Linked DNA regions of Homo sapiens. The protein of the gene in region 1 purifies or fractionates together with the protein of each later gene. This does not show direct contact. Each region holds a gene or a part of one and is shown on either strand. Other genes may lie near its edges.

Region 1 (7,023 bases):
TAGTGGGCGGCCGAGGTCATGCGGAAAGCGTCCAGCGGCGTGGCCGTGCGGTCGCAGATGACGTTCTTGCCGATGCCTGCGGGTGGGAGGAAGACAGCGGTCAGCGGGGCAGGACCATGTCCGAGCGCGCGTCCCTGGGTCAGATCTTAAAATATTTCACATTAATAGAAAAAGAAGGTCAGATGTGGTGGCTCATGCCTGTTGTCCCAGCACTTTGGGAGGCCAAGGCCGGAGGAGGCCTTGAGCCCAGGAGTTGGAGGCCAGCCTGGGTAACACAGAGAGATCCTGTCTCAATAATAATAATAATAATAATAATAATAATAATAATAATAATAATGAGCCGGGCGTGGTGGTGCACGCCTGTGGTCCCAGCTACTCAGGAGGCCGAAGTGGGAGGATCACTTGAGCCCAGGAGGTTGAGGCTGCAGTGAGCTATGTTCTGGCCGCTGCAGTGAGCTATGTTCTGGCCACTGCACTCCAGCCTGGGGACAGCAAGACTCTGTCTCAAAAAATAAAAAATAATGAAAATAAAAAAGATATTCTATATATTTCAATATTACTTTAAATATTTATGTTGCATTACTTAATTTGTTGTTTTTTGTTTGTTTGTTTTTGAGACAGAATCTCACTGTTCCCCAGGCTGCATTGCAGTGGTGCGATCATAGCTAACTGCAGCCTCAAATCTCTGGGCTCAAGCAATCCTCCTGCCTCAGCCTCCTGAGTAGCTAAGACAGTAGGTGCCACCACACCTAGCTAAACTTTTTTTTGAGATGGATTCTCACCCTATCACCCAGGCTGGAGTGCAATGGCACCATCTCGGCTCACTGCAACCTCCACCTCCTGGGTTCAAACGATTCTCCTGCCTCAGCCTCCCGAGTAGTTGAGATTACAGGCGCCCGCCACCATGCCCAGCTAATTTTTGTATTTTTAGTAGAGATGGGGTTTCACCATGTTTGCCAGGCTAGTCTGGAACTCCTGACCTCATGATCCGCCCACCTCAGCCTCCCAAAGTTCTGGGATTACAGGCGTGAGCCACTGCGCCCAGCCATTTTTTTTTTTTAAAAGAGATGGGGTCTCCAATTTTTTTTTAAGAGACAGGGGTCTCCTTATATTGTTCAGGCCGGTCTCGAATTCCTGGTCTTAAGTGGTCCCCTACCCTCTAAGTCCCCAAAGTGCTGGGATTACAGGTGTCCTGGTCCCAAAAGGCCATGACTTACTTAATTTTAATGTTAAATGTCTGGTATTGATTTAAATAGTAAGGTTTATTTTAAGATATTTAAGTAACCTATATTTTAGAAATGTTTAACAATATTTGCTAAGGTAGTATAAAATGCTTCATTTTATATTTTATTTATATAAACCTATAACATTTTAAACAGAAATAGATTTTGCTTTTATGTTATTTAAATACAAAATATTAGATAGTACTATTAAAGTATACAATATAATCTTTTTACATATAAAATATATTGTTACAGTTATCATATATATAAAATGTTTGATATGTTGTATTTTATATTTAAAATATCATTTTTAGTAAAAGTGTATTATTATTAAAAATCATATAGTGAAAGGAGAAGAGTGCCTGTATTTGGACAGAATAAGAATACATAAACTTAAATCCTAGCCAAGGTAAGTCTAATTAAGTCTGAAGAACTTCTTATTGATACCCTTTGAAGGTCTAAGCTTTTGGCTAATGTCTTCCCCTCTCCACCCCTCACAATTCCCCAGGATTGTATTTTGAGCATTATCATGCTTGTTTATTTTGCATTCTGGATTAGGGCTGGCAGTGGTCACAGATGTGTTCGTTTAACGTTTTTCTTTTCCTACAAAGAGCGGATATCACCTAAATCTGAGGAGTTGGCAGTGCCTGCTTCCTTCCCGACCCCCATCTGCTTCAGGGTGGGGTATGTTGCTTTTGGCCAGTGGAGGTCAGGCCAAATAAGATTTAGTCTTATGTGATGACTGTGATGTGTGTATAAATTACACAGAGACCAAAATGCCTCTCTGAGCCCTTTAGGAGACTAAGTGGTTCTGGGTCTGGGGAAAACAAAGGATCAAAGGAAAGGAGAGTGGCAGGGAATGAGAAAGGGATTTATTTCATGGAAGCCAAGAGTCAGGGAAGAAGAAAAACAACTCAGCTGGACCTGGAGAAACAGCCAACTGGAGGGCAAGAAAAAAAAAAAAAAGAATGACACAGATTTGTTAGCAAGTCAGATAAAACAGACGCTAGGCAAAAAGACTTGGGAGTCAAAGCACCTGTCCTGGGGCAGGTCTCTGTGGTCTAGGCATGCTCACCCATAGACCCTCTAATGGAGACCTGGGCACTCCAGCCGCAGATGTGGGAGAGACCCCAAGAGAAATGGGGTGATGAGACACACGCCACCCTATCCCACTTGTCCTGACTACAGACACTCAATTGACAAAATCCACGAACACTTACAACGTGCTGAGCTAAGATGGGGTTTTGTAGAAGTCGTGAGATTGCAGATGTCTGTCCAGGGCCACAGCCTGGCACATGGCTTTCTCATTTTCCCAGTGGAAGAGCTAGCCAAATCCTAGAACTGGTCGGTACAGATTGGAGAAAGGAAATACAAACCATGGCTGTCAGTTTCCACGTGCACATCTAGTTCTGGCCCTGAGTGAAAAGCCTGGAGCCTACAGAATGACCACACCTCCTTGCCTTTTCTTCTATGTTGGCAGAGCTGGGCTGGTGCCCCTGATGGCCATGAAATAGCAGTGAGAAGCTCTTTTAGTGCTTAGCAACCAGATGAGGACTGAGGCTCCGGCAGAGAGATAAGATAACATTGGTTTGTATCGCCAAAAGTGCCACACACCTGTGTAACATTATGTTCTGACAATATGATCCCGTAGGCATAAGGCTCATCTAACACCAGCTCATGCTACCAGGAACAGATTTATATGTAAATGCAGCGGTAGGTCACTGCAGGGACAGGTGATAAATACTGCCAAAATCTGCCTCACACCCATTGGGTGTAGGCTCTGGCCTCTACTACACCCTATTTCAAGGTCCCCAAAAGCAGGATCCTGACTGCCATCTGCTTAGTATACGCTATTGGTCATATTAATGGCACTTAAGAAAAGGTTTTTATTTTTTTCTATTATAAAAACTATAAAATAAAATAATAAAAGAAGAATAATTAGAGAAAAATGATCCACACCCCTTCCCTACACACCCAAAACAATGATTGCATGGAATTCTTTGCAGCTCCATAGATAAAGAGATTTTGATGAAAGCTCCAGAAGATGTAAAATGAACATGACATGATATACAAAAATGCAACTCCACCCTGAGACTCACATGTGGATTCCCCAGGGATCTGAGACACACACATCCCTTCAGGCTATTTATTAGGTTGCTGCAAATGTAATTGTGGTTTTACCACTGAAAGTAATTGTGGTGCCCTCTTTTTAATGGTAAAACTGCAATTACTTTTGCACCAACCTAATATATATGATATGGCTCCACATTATACAGTAAGGCCCTCAAGGATAAGGGCTGGGTTGTTTAATGCTTAAGTCTCCATTAATACCCACAGCACCCTGTGGTGCATCCAGTGTGCAGCAGGAACCCAGCAAACCTTGTTGCCTGCCCCACCTTTGTGCCCACAGTCTTTTGCAACATTCATGCTTTACAGATGGGTCTCGGCAACATCTTAACACACGATATCTTCAAAAGTCAAACGAGACTTCTAGGAATTTCTCATAAAGAACTAATCCAATATGCAAGCATGGCTTCTTGCCCAAAGATAGTTTTGACTGCATTATTTATTATAGCAAAAAACTGGGAACAGAGGTTGGATGCAGTGGCTTCACGCCCATAATTCTGGAGTTTTGGGGAGATCACTTGAGGCCAGGAGTTTGAGACCAGTCTGGACAACATAGCAAGATCCCATTTCTTAAAAAAAGCCAGGCGTGGTGATGCATGCCTGTAGTCCCAGCTACTTAGGAGGCTGAGGTGGGAGCATCACTTAAGCCCAGGAGTTTAAAGCTGCAGTGAGCTATGACTGTGTCACTGCACTCCAGCCTAGGTGACAGTGAGACCCTGTCTCAAAACAAAAAACAAAACAACTATGAGCAACGCAAATACCCAACAGAAAAAGGGTTAAGTCAACTGTCATGCAGCCATATAATAGAATATTGTGCAACCATAGAAAATGATGCTTATGGAGACTTTTCAATGGCAAGTAAGATGATTATGATGTAATGTTAAATGAAAAGGGCTCTATTCATAGACATATATGATCTCAACCCTCTCTGAAATGACAAAAGAAAAAGAAAAACCCTAGGAGGTTTACTCTGATTAGTAGGAGTGGTTGGATTAGTAGGATTATGATTGATTTTATTTTCTTCACATTTTTCCATATTTTCTAAATTTGTAATTTTATGGTCAGAAAAAAAAAGCTAATTAAAAAAATCCACAAAGAGACAGGAAGACCTTTGAAGGACAGCACTCACAATAATGGAAAAAGGGTCCTCCAAAGTCTAGGGGAGCTGGCAGGTCCCAGCTCTCATGGGCCCATCCCAGTTCCTGAGCCCCAGAGAGCTGGTAGAAGGTTCTGCTGACCCTGAATCTTGAAAGCTTCAGAAGCCCGGGCTCTGTTGCCAGGTCTTCTTGCTCCATTTGCTCAAGACCTCTTTATGATTCTTACTGAAAGCTGTGGACTCTCTCTCCAAAACATGCAACTCAGACAGATGCACAAAACTCTGCCACAACCTGAAGCCCATGCACGGATCCCCTCCGGTTCTGAGGCCCAGGCATCATCATACATTCACAATAAATTCTTAAAGGCTTTGGGACATATTGTTAAAAATAAGATAATCCTTCCAGTTCCAAAAGGAACCCAAAACGCAGAGCCAGCAGACCCTTCACGAATTGCTAAGCAAAGTTTGTTTTCTCTGCATTCTGGACAGTCTTCCCTTACCCTACCTCTCTCGGTGGGCTTCTGAAAAGCCCACTCTGAGATCCTCAAGATCCTCAGGTTTTTTCTTTTTCCAGCTTTTCCCCACCCAAATCTTCGCTATCAAAAGGTTCTTGCTAAAGGAGCACAATTCTAAGTATAGACTTCTAGTCAGACACTGTGTGTGTGTGTATATGTGTTTATGTGTGTGTGTGTGTATGTATGTATGTGTGTAGGTGGATTAGTGTGGCACAGAGCATTCCTCTCATCCCTAAAACCACGTGCAACGTAAAGGGAACTTGCATTGTCTGAGTGTGTGGTTGACATACCCCACAATCCTGGGTGTGTCAGATGCCATTCACTGTATGCTGGGATTTCTCCCGAAGAAAGCACACAGGTACCTGTTCTGCAAACTGCCTGTCTGTCAGCCTGGGCTTTGGACTCGGCTCTCCAGCAAATACCACAGGTATTTGATCTTCTCATGACAATCATCTGTCTTAGCATAGGAGAAAGCACCAAAATGGCTCTTTAGAGAAAAGCACTCTCTCCCATTTAATGTAGGAAATAAGTAGAGGCAGTCTTGCACTCTTCTCTAAGCACGTGGCTATGACATTTCTTTGACTTGAGGGTAAGTAGATTCTACCGGGAAGACAGAAAATGAGGGGTTCAGGCAGAGGCAGAGGCCCTGTTTTCTTATAAGCCCTTTACAGCCATGGCTAATTTCCTAATGGAGAAACCTACAAAGGCTTTCCCCCTTTTGCCATGAGAAAAGAATACTGCCCTAGGTCACTGTGCACAGCCTAAGGAGGCCATCTGCACTTTCTTACTCCTAGGTGAACAACTTCCCTGAAAAGACAAGGGAGCCACTTGTCCCATGCTGAGTCCACACACCTCTGGGAGCACCAGGCCAACACACGTTCTTTAGGTCTCAGGTTTACATCCTCTTGTGGCAAAATGTGGTGCCCACTTTCTGAGGCAAAAAGATCAAAAACTTTGGGACTTCAAACAATTTCAGAGATAAAAATCATGCTGCAGAGAATTAGGCAAAGGGACTTGGAACATATGGACTCTATTTCACTCCAGATTAACAGGCAGTGAAAAATGAAAACCATGAAAACAAGAAGTGCCTGAGAAAGTATGTTTTGTGTTTTGCCAAGCCCCAAACATTTCCCAAGTGGTGGGAGAGGTCTGGCAAAGTCCCCTGGTGCTCTCAATGGTGGTAGAGGAACGGGAGGGGCTTTCTGTGCACATGCGGGTATGATGGGTGAGGGTCACTCTGCTGCATCCATCCAGGACTGTGAACCATCACGCCACGGCTCCATGCTCAGCTCGCCCCCCTGAGGGCTCTGTCCCTGCATCCAGAAATGGCTGTCTTGGAGGGTTGCCGCATCTGTCAATGTGATGCAGTGTGACCACGGGTGAGTGGCAGAAAGCACACGAGGACTGGCCTGAGTCTTCTGGGGAGGCCTTCACAACTCACTCCACAAAGACCAGGCAGCCCTTTGTGTGAGAACAAAGAGCTAAAGCTGGGTCTTTTGAAGGCTTTGGGGCTTGAACCAACTTAAAATTTTAAGACAATATCCTCTCAGCAGCAAATAAAGCGAAGCTATCTGTCTTTAAAATGGTGGAGCTGAGAGATACCTTCCAACCTATGTTGCCGTGCTGTAATTAGGAGCAAAATGAGATCCGTGGGAAACTTCTGACGGGTTAGAGTGCTATGTGCAAGGCAGTGTGCCTGATCTTCATCAGAAGCTTTTAAGTTAAATAATTTCAGAAGAAGCTTTACTGCCCTCCTGAGATCCCTCATGGGGAAATGGAAAATCAGCTCCCTCCGAAGCCTGCTGAATGTGTTCTCTGTAACCGAGCCAAAATATTCATGGCCCTCCTGAGAAATCTGTGCTATAGGGAAGAGTTTCCAGCCCAGAGACCCTAAAGCCCTTCAGGCAGCTGCTCCCCTTATATCCTCCAAGCTCAGGGTCTCCAAGTTGTGGCTGAGTCTCTGCTCCTATCTCAGGACAGATCAGAGCTTTGGTGGGGCTGACACTTGATCCAAATGGTACCCCTGGGAGTCTGGGCAAGGGGCTTCCCATTCACACCTCTA
Region 2 (7,769 bases), on another chromosome or scaffold:
CCTCCCAAAGTGCTGGGATTACAAGTGTGAGCCACCGCTCCCGGCCTAATTTTTGTATTTTTAATAGAGACAGGGTTTTGCCTGTTGGCCAGGCTGGTCTCGGACTCCTGACCTCAAATGATCTGCCCGCCTGGGCCTCCCAAAGTACTGGGATTACAGGCGTGAGCCACTGTGCCCAGCCGGGTTTAATGCCTTTATAAAAAGCAGAAGAGACACCAAAGCTTCCTCTCTCCAACATGTGAGGACATAGCAAGAAGGCAAGTGGGGAAGAGGGCCCTCACCAGGAACCAAATAGGCCAGCACCTTGATCTTGGACCTCCCAGCCTCCAGAGCTGTGGGAAATAAACATCTGTTGTTTAGACTGTGGTACCCAGGCTGTAGTATTTTGTTATAGCAACCTGAGCAGACTAAGACAGAGGACATAGGCATGGCCAATCCTGGAGGACAGACTGACAGCTGATCCGGAGTCTGCCAAAGTGGTGAGGTGACTGCCCTGGAGTCAGCTGGGGAAGGGGTGCACAGGTAAAGGATGCCTGCCACACGTATCCCCCTCCCCAAGATCACCCTGGCTGCAATAAGCCAGAGGTGGTACTCTGGTCTGAAGACAGAGGTATAAGCCAAGGCATATATCCACTCAGGCAGCTCAAGCACAAGCATTTGCAGAGCCCAGATCCTTGAACTCGTGCTGTGTCCAAGTGAGTGAAAGCATGTCAGCAGCATTTCTGACAGCCTAATCTCATATAATCTAGTGAAAGAAATTCTACACCAGGCAGCAGGAGTGAGCTGCTTGCAAGGCTGCTCTCAGAACCAGATCTGGCCATGACGACTCCATAAACATGAATTCTGGAGCTTCTCAGGGCATCTGGTTGACCCTACATATGTGTGAGAGATGGGTAGGGGTAAGAGAGAGGGTTGGAGAGCACCCTGAAGAGGAGAAACAGCAAATGGGACCCACAGGGAAAGGACTTGGTCTGGAGCTCGGTTGCCCTACCTAGATGGCACCACTCACCCTAGCTAGTCCCAGCCACTGGAGAGAGACTTAGAAAATTTCAAGGTAGAAAATTGTGGTCAACAAGAGTCACATGGGATCTGGTCTAGACAGAGACACCCTTCCTAAATGGCATTGCTAGCCCCAGAAGGGCACTTACAAACTTTTGAGGAATACAGTCCAAAGTGCAGGACCCTCTTAAGGCACAGAGTCTGGCACAAGGGGCCTCACTTGCCTGAATCTAATGGTGTTACTACCATCAACCACTGGATACTATCCACTAAGAATTAACAGTAGGAGCAAGAAGGTGGGTTCAGCACTGAGCCAATGAAGTTTCTATCCGTCCCCTCATCCATCCATCCATCCATCCATCCATCCATCCATCCATCCATCCAACACATGTTCATTGAGCACTTAACACCATGCCAGTATTGTTTTAGGTTCAGGAAAACAGCAATGGGTCTGACCAACTATTTCTACCCCAAGCTGGTACTGCACAATTAAAAAAGAAGGAAAAATAAAACAAGAAAAAAATGGCCACAGACGTATCTCACATACAGCTGTTCATTTACAAACTTTTCTCAATTATGGTTCTTGAAAAGTGTTCCAATTACTGCGACTGTATACAATTTAACCCAAAACTTAGTGGTTGGGGTAAATGACAATGTTTATTTTACTCATGAATCTGCTATATGGACTGCTCAATATTTTTCATGGATCCACATCTCTTATGGGCTGCTCTCAATAGGGTTAGTTTGTCCCTGCTCAGCTTGGTGTCAGGTTGGGGTGGAGGCTTGAAGCCTGGGGGCTGGAATCATCTGAAGGCTTCCTCACTCATATGTCTGGCTATTGATGCTGACTGTCACCAGAAACTTAGCTAGGGCTGGTAGCTGGAACACCTCTTCATGTTTTCCTTATGTGGCTTGGGCTTCCTCCCAACATGGTGGCTGGGGTCCCAGAGTGAGCATTGTGATAGGGAGCAAGCCAGGTAGAAGCTGTGTCTTCTTTATGACCTAGCCCCAGAAATCACATAGCATCACTTTTGCCCTATTGGTTAGAATGGTCACAGACGCAGCCAGACTCAAGGAGAAGGAACATCAATCCCACTTCTCAGTGGGAGGAGTGTCGGTTACATCATAAGGAGAACCATGGGATGGATCATATAGATTGGTATGGCATCTCCCAGAATGATGCTTTCAGGGTAAATAAAACAAAAAAGACTGGTGTAGTGATCTTTGGAAAAAAGTCTGTCACAAAAGCTTATACCGCTGCTCCTCTTTTTTCCAATTCTGTGCCTTTCCAAACACACTATACACAATGATATTTTGACATTACAGTTCAGATGAAGACATTCCCCAGTTTAGTCGATGTTTCTAGTTAGAGATCATGCCGTGGAACAAATTTGAATTGTGCACTATGTTTGGAGATCCAAAATGTTTTACTATGTGTAGCATCTCATGTGTCTCTTAAGTTTATTGTACATGTGTGCTTTTCTCAAATGTTTCAAAGTGTTCTAATGTTTAGTCTTTAATTTTCCCTCAAGGTATATGTGCGTATGTGTGTTTTATTTTTATGTTTGTTTAAGTGAAGACTTCAAAAGTTTTAAAAAATTAGCAAAGAGTGCAGAAAAAACATATCTTTTATGCCAGGCACAGTGATGTGTGCCTTTAGTTCCAGCTACTTGGGAGGCTGAGGCAGGTGGATCGCTTGGGCCTGGGAGTTTGAAGCCAGCCTGGGCAACATAGCGAGGCCCTGTGTCTTAAAAAAACAAACCATCATTTAGAGAACCACTCACTTGCATCTCTCCTCCACCAACTTGCACCTAATATTAAATCTTGTCTTTCTGTCCAGAGCAGTAAGTCTTACTGCCTTACATGTTATGTAAAAACCATATTTTAAGCAAAATTATTTGTTTGTATAATTTTCTGTTGCATCAATATATTTTTTCTGTTAAAAATATTTAGGTGCCTTAGGCTGGAATTGAACACAATTTTGCCCATTTTAATTAATGGGAAAAATTTAACAGCTTTCCACTTAGAAGCAGAATTTCAGGAATGAATTGAAACCACTAGAAGGGTGATAGCTGTATTTTCATCATCTCCCCAAGGGCTTTGGGACAGCTTTCCCATCCTCTGTGCCTGTCACTTTTCCAATTCCCATCACCCGTTGTTCTTCCAGTTAGTCACCCCTCCCTTGTCTGTTACAGGGGTTCAGTATTAATTGTGTTAGAATGCATCTGGTTGCAAGTAACATAAAACTCAACAAACTCTGGTATATATAAGATCCCTCATCCCGATAAGACAGGAAGGTAGTACAGGGTTTGTGTAGCTGCTTGAGTATGACTTAAACAAACAGGCTCCTGTCTTTCTGCTCCACCTTCCTCAGCACAGCCCTCCTCATGGCCTCTAGGCTGCTGTGCTCCCAGGTGTTACCCAGTTCCAAGCATGAAGCAGGGGAAAAGTGAAGGACACAAACTTCTCCAAGGGAAGAAGGAAGGGAAGGTCTCCTTTGATACTTCTGCCTACATCTCAGTGGCCAGGACTTTGTCTCACTGCCACCCTTAGCAGCAAAGAAAGTTGAGAGTTGTGTGCTTTGCTTTTCAGCCCCTGTAGTATAGAAAGGCAAGGGAGTGGTTGAAATAGATCTTGAGTTAGCCAACTACATAATTTGTCACACTGTGTTTAATTGAAATGTATTGCTTGGATCCAGTGTCCTGGACATAGCCTCGTTCCTGTCCTAGCACATTCTTACCCTCCTTTTCCCTCTTCCTTCCTGTAGCTATTTTTCTGGGGGGTGAGGTGTGGTCTTGAGGAAACACTCTTCAGTTTTACCCTTTCTGTGAGGATACTAGTTCCCTTATCACTCATTCCTCCATAGTCTCTTCTAACTGAGGTGAGGAGTCAGAATCTTCTTTGCTCCCTTCTGCTTTTCAGACAACCGTGCCTTCACCTCTACTCAACACCCTGACCCCTCCTCCCTCTCTCAATACCCAAGGTCAGTCTCAAGGCCAGGTCCTCCGTGAAGAATTCCACCATCCCTCCCTCCTCTTCTTTCTCAGTCCAAGTTTCCTCCTTTAGATTCTCAAAGCACTTAAGCTGTACCTCTCCAATGGTATTATTTTCTTCGTTGAAGTGAAAGCAAATTATTGAAAGTGGTACTGTTTACAAAATGTCTAGCGCATGGCAGGTGCTCGAAGTAGTATCTCTTAGTATTATTACTACTGTCTTATCTCGATCAGATTCAGCTCTTTAATGAGAGGCTCTAAATCTTATGTTCGATTCACCTTTGTAACCCACACCGGGCCTGGAATAGAGCACTGTTCATAATTAATGCTGTGCCCGTGTAATAAGACGGCGGCGAGCAAAGGGCATCATTTCAGAGGAAGAGTGCTGTAATGGTGGGATGGGAGAAATTCCTAGAACCTAGGTGGGAGCCAGAATCTTGCAGAGAAGCCCCTTATCCGTCTGCACCGAAAGCAGGTAGAGTGGATGCCGTAAGATTCCTAAGGACGCAGGTAGAGCGCCTCCTCTGTGCCGCGATGAGGTAGGTGCATCCGTCACTTCACTCCTCCCTCTCCACTTGATCCGGAATGGGAGGAACGCAATGCGTCCCGCGCGGCGATCTGGGATAGCTGCGCAGGCGCAGCTTCCGGCTCTGTGTCTCGGGAATTATTTGACGCCACCGGTTCAGCCCCGTAGAAAGCTCTGATTAGGCGCACCGCGCACGCGCAGTGGCCCACTTGGCTGGGGAGTTATTTGACGCCGCCGCCCCTGGCAGTCGGAAGTTGCCTGAGCAGATCCCAGCCGGCTGGCTCGAGTGGCCTTCGTCGTCCCTTGGCGCCCTGGGAGAGTCGCTGACGGGTGGACTGACGGACCGCCTGAGGACGGCCGGCCAGGGCGGTGAAAGCGCCAGCCCTATGGCGCGGGTCGCGTGAGGCGGAAGGCCGAGGACGGCCGGCGGCGGCGCCCGCCCCGGCGATGCGGGCCCCGCCCGTCGCCTCAGGTAACCGGGCAGCCGGCCCCGCCGCGGCCGGACCCTCCCCTCTCCTTCCCTCTCTTCCCCACCTGGCGGTCAAGGGACGGCTGAGGCTTGTTTCTCGGCTCTGGGTGCTCCAGGGGCCCGGCCTTTGGAAGCTCATCTGCAAATTTTTGGGAGACCCACGGGGGCGGGGAAAGCTTGGCCCTGGAGTGGGCGGCTGCTGTCGAGTCTGTGTAAACCCGGTCTAATCCTTGGGAGCTACCCCGGCCAGGCGAAGCTCTCTCCTGGCAACCTGGGGGAGGGGGCGGGTCTGGAGCGGAGCTAGACAACTCCCGCAAAGAATTTGGTCCAGCAGAAAGGTTAGGCAAGTTGCTGCCGCCCAGTGGGGACGATGCTGCCCATTGCACAGTGACACTTTGATGAGGGAGAGTTGATGATGGGAGTAAACAGCTAACCCCCATTAAGCGCTTCTTATCCGCCAGGCATCATGCCAGGCCATTACGTTCTCCACGTCTAACTTCACAGCAACCCTGTGAGGTAGGATTGTTGTCCCCATTTTACTGACGAGGCAACTGAGTCCCTGGGTGGTTGGGTGACTTAATTACCCAAGGTCACATAGCTAGTAATTTGAACCGGAGCATCCGACCCAAGTGCTTAACAATTAGGGCAGTGGCTCTCCAACTTTGCTACACTGTAGAATCACCTGGGGGAAATTGTAAAGGTTTCTGATGCCCATGTGGCATCCCAGACCAAAACAATCAGAATGTCTGGAGTTGAAAGCCAGACTTCAATATTTTTTTTTTAAAGATGCCCAAGTGATTCCAGCTTGCAGCAAAGTTTGGGAACCGCATGTAATTTGATAATTCTGCATCTCAAAAAGCATCTCTCTTTCTCCAGCTTAAGTGTGCAGGAGAATTGTCTGGGAGCTTGTTAAACTTGCAGGTTCCACCCGCAGAGATCTTTAGGTTGACTGACCACTACACCTTGTGAAAGACTGTTAGGGATGGAATTCTCTGCAGGGATTCTGAGTCATCTGGAACATTTAAAATGTATGCATCTTATGCAAACTGCTCGTTTGCAATTTTCCTAAATATACAGTACTTATAGGTGTAGCGTCTGTAACCTCTGGGTCGTTTTTACATATGCTGGAAGTCTGCCTAGACCATCCTCTGAACGTTCTGGCCATCCCACCCAAACGCACACACTTCTGCTCTCTCCTATATGCATATACACACCCTTTTCTTTTCTTTCTTTCTTTTTTTTAGACAGAGTCTTGCTCTGTTGCCCAGGCTGGAATGCAGTGGCATGATCTTGGCTCACTGCAACTTCCGCCTCCTGAGCTCAAGCAGTCCTCCCACCTCAGCCTCTCAAGTAGCTGGGACTACCACGCTTGGCTAATTTTTGAATTTTTTTTGTAGAGATGGGGTTTCTCCATGTTGCCCAGGCTGGTCTCAAACTCCTGGGCTGAAGCAGTCCACCCACTATGGTCTGCCATAGTGGTGGGATTACAGATGCGAGCCACTGTGCCAGGCCTACATACCCTTTTCTTCCTGTCTCTGGCTGCATTAGCTTTAAGCATTCCCTTCAAGATACCTCTGTCCCTGACCCCTACCCACCTTGAGTCCTTCCAATTTGCTCTTTAGGAACATCGTAGTGAAACTTATCAGTTATTTTTCTGAGTTGTAGTTCTATCCCTACTTCTAGATTATGAGAAGCTTTAGGGCAGGGACTATGTTTTCTTCATCTCTGTATTCCTTCCAGTGCTTTGACATACAGACTCACAAAGCTTTTACTCAGTGGAATGTTTGGGTCCTTTTATGTCATAGATAGATCATGTTGCGAACAGATTCTTCTCTATTTCCATTTTTGTAAAAGATGTTTGGTAGTTCCCAGCTTATAGAGTTTTGTTCTTTTTGCTTAGGAGTGAGTATTCTAGTTATGTTCAGCAATTTGTCCAGCAGTTGAACACACACATTGAGTTCTTACCAATTGCAAGGCACTCTGTAACTAACCATGTGCAATCAACATTGTTTGATTTTTAATGTCTGATTCTATCACAATCGGACGCAATCATGTCTGTAGGGAAAGTCTTTTTATTACTGTTAGACCTTTGCATGTGTTCCCTACTTCATTGTCCAAAAAAGTGTTTAGTTGTCATCCACTAAATGCCACTGCCTTGTTGGTATTTGGTAAATACAAGCAGATGGGATTGCCATTGGTAATGTTTGGTCCTGTTCACCAGGAGAGAGGACGTTAAGTACTTAATGAAGAGTAAAATCATGTTGTCACAGGAATTGACAAATTTAGCACATATTTATTGCAGAATGCCTGAACTGCCATTGCCCCATTTGCCATATTTACAAGTTTAAAGGAAGGCAGACCAATAATTCAGATTGGATTTGTTCTTGGTTGGTCTTAAAACCATGTAAGGATTTGCAAAAGTTAGTGAATATGTGTGTGAAGGTCATTATGAGGAGGTTTTTGGACAATAAAGATTTTTTTTTGTATAGCAATTAAACATGACAAAGTATGTAGACTGAATTAAAAACACATTTCATAAAATTTTTTTTTTCTTTTTTTTTTTTTTGAGATGCAGTCTCGCTCTGTCCCCCAGGCTGGAGTGTAGTGGCGCAATCTCAGCTCACTACAACCTCCGCCTCCTGGGTTCAAACGATTCTCCTGCCTCAGCCTCCTGAGTAGCTGGGACTACAGGCACCCACCACCACACCTGGCTAATTTTTTTGTATTTTTAGTTGAGAGGGGGTTTCGCCATGTTGGCCAGGTTCATGTCGAACTGCTGACC
Region 3 (7,585 bases), on another chromosome or scaffold:
ATGTTAGCCAATTTACATGTGCTAATTTATAATATCATTACCATTAGTTGTAAAATGGGGGGGAGGGGGTAGGTAGAAAGGATAACAGCTTTAGAAATCAGACAAGGCTTTTTTTTCTGTTTTAAGAAAACCCTGACTTCTAGTTTTTACAAATCAATTATGCAACAGTATCAATAAACATACCAGATTTAAATCTAAATCTTCAGAGTCAAGTTCTATAAATTTAACTTGGATTGTCCTACAGTGGGAACACATGCCAGGAAAAAAGTTTACAGCGGATGTTTAAATTATGATTATGTTCTCATACATATAGATGCACTGAATCCTCCCATAAGTACCCTGAGTGAATGGCAGTTCTGTTTGGTCCCATATGAACTATGAACTATGGGACCAAACAAAAATCAAAAGCCTGTGTAACTGGCAATGCCCAATTACTCTGCAAACTAGTTTCCTCATTGTGTTTACCTTATTTAAAGCCCGCACCTACTTCCAGAAAGGATTTTCCATCTGCAAAATCAAATACCTGATTGGCAGACCTCTAAAAGACACTAGTTTTTGTCATTCTACTTTCTCTCATTCATTTTCTTAGAAATTACATTAACTGTATTTCAAACAAAATAACGACAACAATAAAAGACTTGTTTTTGTTTTGTTTTGTTTTCAAACCAAGCAAGCTAAGTCCTACAAAATGCCTTATATGTGTGACCTCTCTCTTAATTTACCTTTTAATTTTCCATGTCTGCCAGATGGAAAAAAACTCTATGCCAAAAAAGTATATATAAATAATTCCTTAACCAGTCTATAAATAAAGTATGGCCTTTAATTTAGGAAATCTCGATACTTTATTGGAACTCAACTTTATAGCTGTGTCATTACCTAACCTACAGCTTATCCCAAGTAGGTGTCAAGCTCCATTAAGTGTTCAATTTCAAACTGCCATTACCTGTGAATCCCTCGCCTGCATTCACACATTAACTTACTGTGTCCTATTCTCGGCTAAATCTTTATTTCAATGGCTTAACTCTCAAGAAGAATGAAAACAAAAAGATCACAATCTCCACTATATTTAGAAGCTTTACATTTTCTTGAAAACTGAGCTTTTTATAGCGCTAAACTGGATTAACTGCTTTCTTACTACTCCACTGGAATAAATACAATTTACTTGTGACAAAGATTAGCTGTCATAAATGTAGAAAGAGTAAAAAAACAAACTAGAGACACAAAATCTGGGTTCCAATTCTGACTCAGCCTCCTGGTAGCTGGCTGACTACTCGATGTTCCCAAACTTCAGCTTTTTTGTTGGTAAAAAATGGAGAATAATATCATCTACCTATAGAGTTATTGCAAGGATTATCATAATTTACGTGAAATCACTGTAAACAGTAAAGCATCATAGAAATGTTGGGTAATATTGGTGGTATCCTGGTGGTATGAGTAAACAATAGACTAGAGAAACATGTACCTCAAATAAGGGACTTACTTTTTTCACTAAATAAACATCACTTTCCAAAACAAATACGCATCAGGAGGACAGCTCGAGATAAACTCTGAACTAGGATTCAGGCATCTGGATGAATGCATCTTCTTCAGCCAGTTCCACCATTAACTCTAAGTATCAACACAGGCGAAATAATTTTCCTTTTCATCTCAAATGTCTTCATCTAAAAAATCCAACTACTGGACCAGATGTTCCATAAGTATTATTACAGCCTTTATCAGCCTACCAAATGACTAAGTATTCAAAAGAGTCGATTAACATTATATTCAAAACTTAGAGCACTGTTTGGTCTACCAGCAAAACAGAACTTAAGGGCAGACGATAAAAAAAATATTTTTAATTAAAAATAGAATTATATACAATTCTCGAGAAGCAAAGGATGAGTTAAACTACCTATAATAGTTCTCCCTCTAAATGACTAGTGATGAACAAGGTGCATTAACAAAAGGGCGGGGCTCCTTCCCACAGCTTTTTGGGAACCGCCCACTTCCCAAAGAGGTGTAACTGCTACCTCCTTGTCTTCATCTGCCAAGAAACTTGAAAGATTAAGGTTTATATTGTCTGAGAGAGGATTTTATTTTTCTTTTTACTTGGGTGGGGTTGGCAGTAGTCATCTGGCAAACATATCCTATAAACACCATTATCCACAACGCCAGGTCTCCCCACAAAGTCTTAAAGATCTAAGTTTTTAGAGTAATACCAATTTTAAAAAATAAGTTCAGACTATTAACTCAAAATTAGATTACTGTGTTAACAGTAATCAGTGCTGCCAACTGCCAAGTTTTCGCTTCTCCGAATTATTCACCCTCCCGCGTCTCCGCAGAGGCTACGATTTGCCCTCTCCTGCACCGCGCCAGGTCCCGAGAGAGAGTCCGCAGGGGCTCCCAGGAGAGGGAAGGCCGGGCAACCCAGGCCTCGGCGCTGCCACCCCTCGCTCCTCACCGATGACGATGCGCAGGTGCTTGAGGCGAGTCAGTGCGTCCTTCTTGGTGTCTAGCACCTTCTGGGTGGACTTCTTCACGTCCCCGTGCGGCTTCTTGGAGAACATCCTGTCGCTGCCACTGCCACTGCCACTGCCACAGCCGGCTCCCAGCCGGGTCCCGGCGGCAGAAAGTGGAGGGAGTGGACGGGGAGGAGACTAGCCAGAGAGGCTCATTAGCTCCCCAGCCTTGCGGGCCAGGGCAGAGCCGACTCCTTCCCGATCCAGGCCAGGGCCGCCACCTCCACCCGCCTCGCGCCGCGGCTCCAAGGCACCTTCGGCCCCAGCTCCAATATGGCGGATCCCTCTCCCGGCCCTGCACGGAGCGAGGCAGACCCGGGCTGGCCGCCTGCCGCCGCCGCTCGTCTCCAGCGGCCGCCGCTCGCCGCCACAGGCCGGGGCCCCGGACCCAGAGCCACGAAGGTGGAGCTCTCGGCGGCAGGAGCACAACTCTCTCCCTGAGGCCCCCTTAAGGTTGAAGCTTCTTTAGCAGCTTACACCCTGCAGAGGCCGAAACGGAGACGAGTGTGGTAGTGATGGGGTTTCACGACTCTGCCGTCGGTGGCGAACGGTGTCCGTGGCAACCGCCTTCTGACGTCAAGAGTTCTTGACGTCATGCCAGCATGAGATCACCCGTGGCACTCCCCGCCTTGGTTTCCTGTGTAAGCAGCCAAAGGAGAATCTCAAGAAAGGCAAGGAAGGTAGTTACTGCGTGCTCCATTGTAAGCCAAATGATAGTAATAAGCAAAGAGAAGTAATCTTTATTAAATATGTCCATGATTTATCTTTGAAAATGTGCATAAGTTGTTGTGGCCACCAGATCCTCTAGCAGAAAGATAAACGAAGTTACAGTTGGGCAATTTATTCTGTCCTAAATCTATTACTAATAATATTTCCTGCACTATGTATGTGATTTCTTTCATATTTTTTCTATTTGCAATATCCCTGTTTTTTGCTGCAAACAACTTGACAACAGAAAGGCTTAAGCAGAGGTATCTAGGTTTTTTAAATAAAAGTAATCTTGCTTTCCTTTTCTATTGTGCTTTTAAAAATCTTTTCCCCATCTGCACCCCACATAAAGATGAATATATTGTCAGTTTTTCCTCTGCAAAGAAGAATTCAAGGTTCTTATTACATTGATGGAGTCATCTGAAGAATCTGCAATAGCTGAAAAAAATCCGTGAAATTCTGAATGACATAAATTGAAATTTTTATTGGAACCCTTTTTTTTTTTTTCCTTTTTCCTTTTCTTTCCAGACAGGGTCTCTGTGTCCCAGGCAGAAGTGCAGTGGTGTGATCTCAGCTCACTGAAGCCTCGAACTCCCAGGCTCAGGTGATGCTCCCACCTCAGCCTACCGAGTAGCTGGGACCACAGGTGCGCGCCACCACATCCAGCTAATTTTTGTGTTTTTTGTAGAGACGGGGTTTCGCCATTTTGCCCAAACTGGTCTAAAACTCCTAGACTCAAGTGATCCGCCCGCCTCAGCCTACCAAACTGCTGGGATTACAGGCGTGAGGCCACTGCGCCTGGCCAGGAACATTTCCTCCACAAAATAATTTGATAAAGAGTGAGTTTGCTTGTTTGAACTGTTTCCTTCTATGTTCTCACCCATAGCAATAGACTTGTCCAATGAAATATGTGATTAACATAGAAAAATAACAAAATCAGCAAAGAAGAGAGATGTAAGACATTTGCCAAAATTATGTTAAAATATAGTGCTTTGCTTAATGGTAGTTTGTTTCAACAACAATCCTATATTTTTTAAAGTACAAAAAATTTATTCAGTTTCTACATGTAGGGTTTGTTTGTATCATCAAACTTACAAGCCATACATGTTTTGAGGAAGCTTATAACATAATAGAAAAATAAGGGGATTGTTCAAGAGATTTTAGTTCTAGTTCCTCTCAGCATCAGTTTTCTTATTAATAAAATCAAAATAAGGTCTGTCCCTCACAGTTTCGTGAAATTTAGGCAATAATACAATGTTTTCAAGCATGATCTTTAGAATTACATAGACCTAAATTAGACATTCTGTTTTTCACTTGCAAGGACTTACTTGCTCTCGGGCCCTTGGCATGTAGTTCAGTCTCAGCCTGATTTTCCTCATTTGTAAACTACATCAGTGATTGTGATAATTAGGTGAGAAAAGTATTGAAAGTTACATCTATAATGACACATCTCATAACATTCCTTTCCTTCATAGAATTTAAATACAGTAATTTGTGTAACTGTTTACAGATTCTCTCTTTCATGAGACTGTAAACTCCCTGAGGACAGAGACTGTATAGATTGTCTAAAGTTGTATCCCAGTCTTCTTGCAAAGTGCTCTTTGCAAGATAGGCTCAATAAATCTGTGTCGAATAGAAGAACGAATGTCACTGTCCCTTCCTTTCTCTTGCGCAAGTACTCAGTAAATGTTTGGCAAATGAGTGACATAATTTTAGAGAATAAAAATGTAACATATCGTTAAAAATAATTATATGGCTGGTATACCTGAGAAAAAATGAAAACACCATTGCAAAACAAACTAGTATAATGTAATTTACATATGGCACACCCATCCCACTGCCTGGTTTTTCTCTTCCCATTGATTTAAATATTAAAATTCTTTGAAAGATAAGTCTTCCCCACAGCAGACATAATTATCATGGAAATAAAACCCAGAAATATACCTTTGAAATATTGCTTGTGAGGGCCAGGCACGGTGGCTCATGCCTGTAATCCCAGCACTTTGGGAGGCCGAGGCAGGCGGATCACAAGGTTAGGAGAGTTCAAGACCAGCCTGACCAACATGGTGAAACCCCGTCTCTACTAAAAATACAAAAAAATTAGCCAGGCGTGGTGGGGCACGCCTGTAATCCCAGCCACTCAGGAGACTGAGGCAGGAGAATTGCTTAAACCCAGGAGGCGGAGGTTGCAGTAAGCCAAGATTGCACCACTGAACTCCAGCCTGGTTGACAGAGTGAGACTCTGTCTCAAAAAAAAAAAAAAAAAAAAAAAAAAAAAAAAATATATATATATATATATATATATATATATTGCTTGTGAGAACTAGATTTTTTTTCTTTTAGTGACTGGGTCTTGCTCTGTCATCCAGGCTGGAATGCAGTGGTGCAGTCACAGCTCACTTTAGCCTTAACTTCCTGGACTCAAGCAATCCTCTCACCTCAGCCTCCCATGCAGTTGGTAACACAGGCAGGTGCCAAAAAGCCCAGCTAATTAAAAAAAAATTTAGTAGATGGCCAGGCGTGGTGGCTCACTCCTGTAATCCCAGCACTTTGGGAGGCCGAGGCAGGTGGATTACCTGAGGCCAGGATTTCAAGACCAGCCTGACCAATATGGAGAAACCCCTTCTCTATTAAAAATACAAAATTAGCCAGGAGTGGTGGCGCGTGCCCATAACCCCAGCTACTCGGGAGTCTGAGGCAGGAGAATCACTTGAACCTGGGAGGCGGAGGTTGCGGTGAACTGAGATCGTGCCATTGCACTCCAGCCTGGGCAACAAGAGCGAAACTCCATCTCACAAAAAAAAAAAAAAAAAAAAAAAAAAAAAATTTAGTAGAGACAAGGTCTCACTATTTTGCCCAGGCTGGTCTTTAACTCCTGGCCTCAAGGGATCCCCCTACCTCAGCCTCCCAAAGTGTTGGGGTTACAGATTACAGGCATGAACCACCACACCTGGCCTACACACAAATGTTTATAGCAATTTTATTCCTAACTCCAAAAACTAGAAGCAACCAAGATATCTTTCAGTAGTTAAATGAATAAACATACTGTGGTACATCCATACAATGGAATATTATTCAGCAATAAAAAGAAATGAGTTCTTGAGCCACAAAAAGACATGTATGACACTTAAATGCATATTGCTAAGTGAAAGAAGCCAGTCTGAAAATGCTACATACTGTATGATTCTAGTTATATGACATTCTGGAAAAGGCAATATTATAGCAATAGTAAAAAGATCAGTGGTTGCAAGAGGATTGAGGGGAGGGAGAAGAAGATTGAATAGGTGAAGGATGGGATATTTTTTAGGGTGGTGAAACTATTCTTTTTTTTTTTTTTTTTTTTTTTTTTTTTTTTTTTTTGAGACAGAGTCTCACTCTGTCACCCAGGCTGGAGTACAGTGGTGCAAACTTGGCTCACTGCAACCTCCGCCTCCTGGGGGCTCAACACCACACTCAGCTAATTTGTTTGACTTTTAGTAAAGATGGGATTTCACCATGTTGCCCAGGCTGGTCTTGAACTTCTGGGCTCAAGCGATCCGCCTGCCTTGGCCTTCTAAAGTGCTGGGATTACAGGTGTAAGCCACTGTGCCCCACCCCCACCCATATACTTCAAATCATCTCTAGATTCTTTAAAATACCTAATGCAATGTAAATGCTATGTAAATAGTTGGTATTCTGTATTGTTTAGGGAATAATGACAAGAAAAAAAAAGTCTGTGTGTGTTCAGTACAGATGTAACCATCCATTTTTTTCTGATTCCTAGTTGGTGGAATCCACAGATGCAGCACTCATGGATACAGAGGGCCAACTGCACACATATGTTTACTAGCACATCTATATACACATACCTATAAATATTTCTGTACATAACCATCTGTATCTGTATTAAGCTAAACATGAATTAATACCTATGTGGTGCCTCAACTCTAATCCATTACTAGATGAATCATTCTACCCTTCTCCCTTTACTTATTATAAACTCCCACTCCAACAATAAGATACTTGGTTCCCACCATATACCAAACATTTACTTATTTTATTGCAGTATACATGTATAACAGTATCAGAATTGTTAACCTACTTTCCCATGAGAAACAACTTTATTAACTAGAGTACCGTGCATATGTACATTTTCTTTTGTCTTTAGTCTTACAGATTCCACTCATTCCCAAATAAGTACCTTTTTCTACACCTTCTTTAGTGAGGTTGTTTCATACTTATAATACAGTTTGATTATTTTGTCACATTTTGTGTTCCAGTGGGATCCTCTGATTTCTTTTAATGTGCATACGTTAAGGTTCATTCTACATGCTATAAAATAGTTCTATGAGTATTGGCAAATGCATAGGGTCATGTATCCACAATTACAGTATCATATA

The links.
Region 2: the proteins of GFOD1 (region 1) and RALGAPB purify together in Homo sapiens (affinity purification with mass spectrometry; 4 studies listed by BioGRID and IntAct, with this or other methods). This does not show direct contact.
Region 3: the proteins of GFOD1 (region 1) and RALGAPA1 purify together in Homo sapiens (affinity purification with mass spectrometry; 4 studies listed by BioGRID and IntAct, with this or other methods). This does not show direct contact.

Annotation. Positions count from the first base shown.
Region 1 is NC_000006.12:13,365,587-13,372,609, forward strand, and holds part of GFOD1 (glucose-fructose oxidoreductase domain-containing protein 1 isoform 1 precursor), read right to left. Parts: intron 77-7,023; coding exon 1-76.
Region 2 is NC_000020.11:38,468,080-38,475,848, forward strand, and holds the start of RALGAPB (ral GTPase-activating protein subunit beta), read left to right. Parts: upstream 1-4,763; 5' UTR 4,764-4,990; intron 4,991-7,769. UniProt on the Homo sapiens protein: Non-catalytic subunit of the heterodimeric RalGAP1 and RalGAP2 complexes which act as GTPase activators for the Ras-like small GTPases RALA and RALB.
Region 3 is NC_000014.9:35,806,290-35,813,874, forward strand, and holds the start of RALGAPA1 (ral GTPase-activating protein subunit alpha-1), read right to left. Parts: upstream 3,007-7,585; 5' UTR 2,547-3,006; coding exon 2,441-2,546; intron 1-2,440. UniProt on the Homo sapiens protein: Catalytic subunit of the heterodimeric RalGAP1 complex which acts as a GTPase activator for the Ras-like small GTPases RALA and RALB.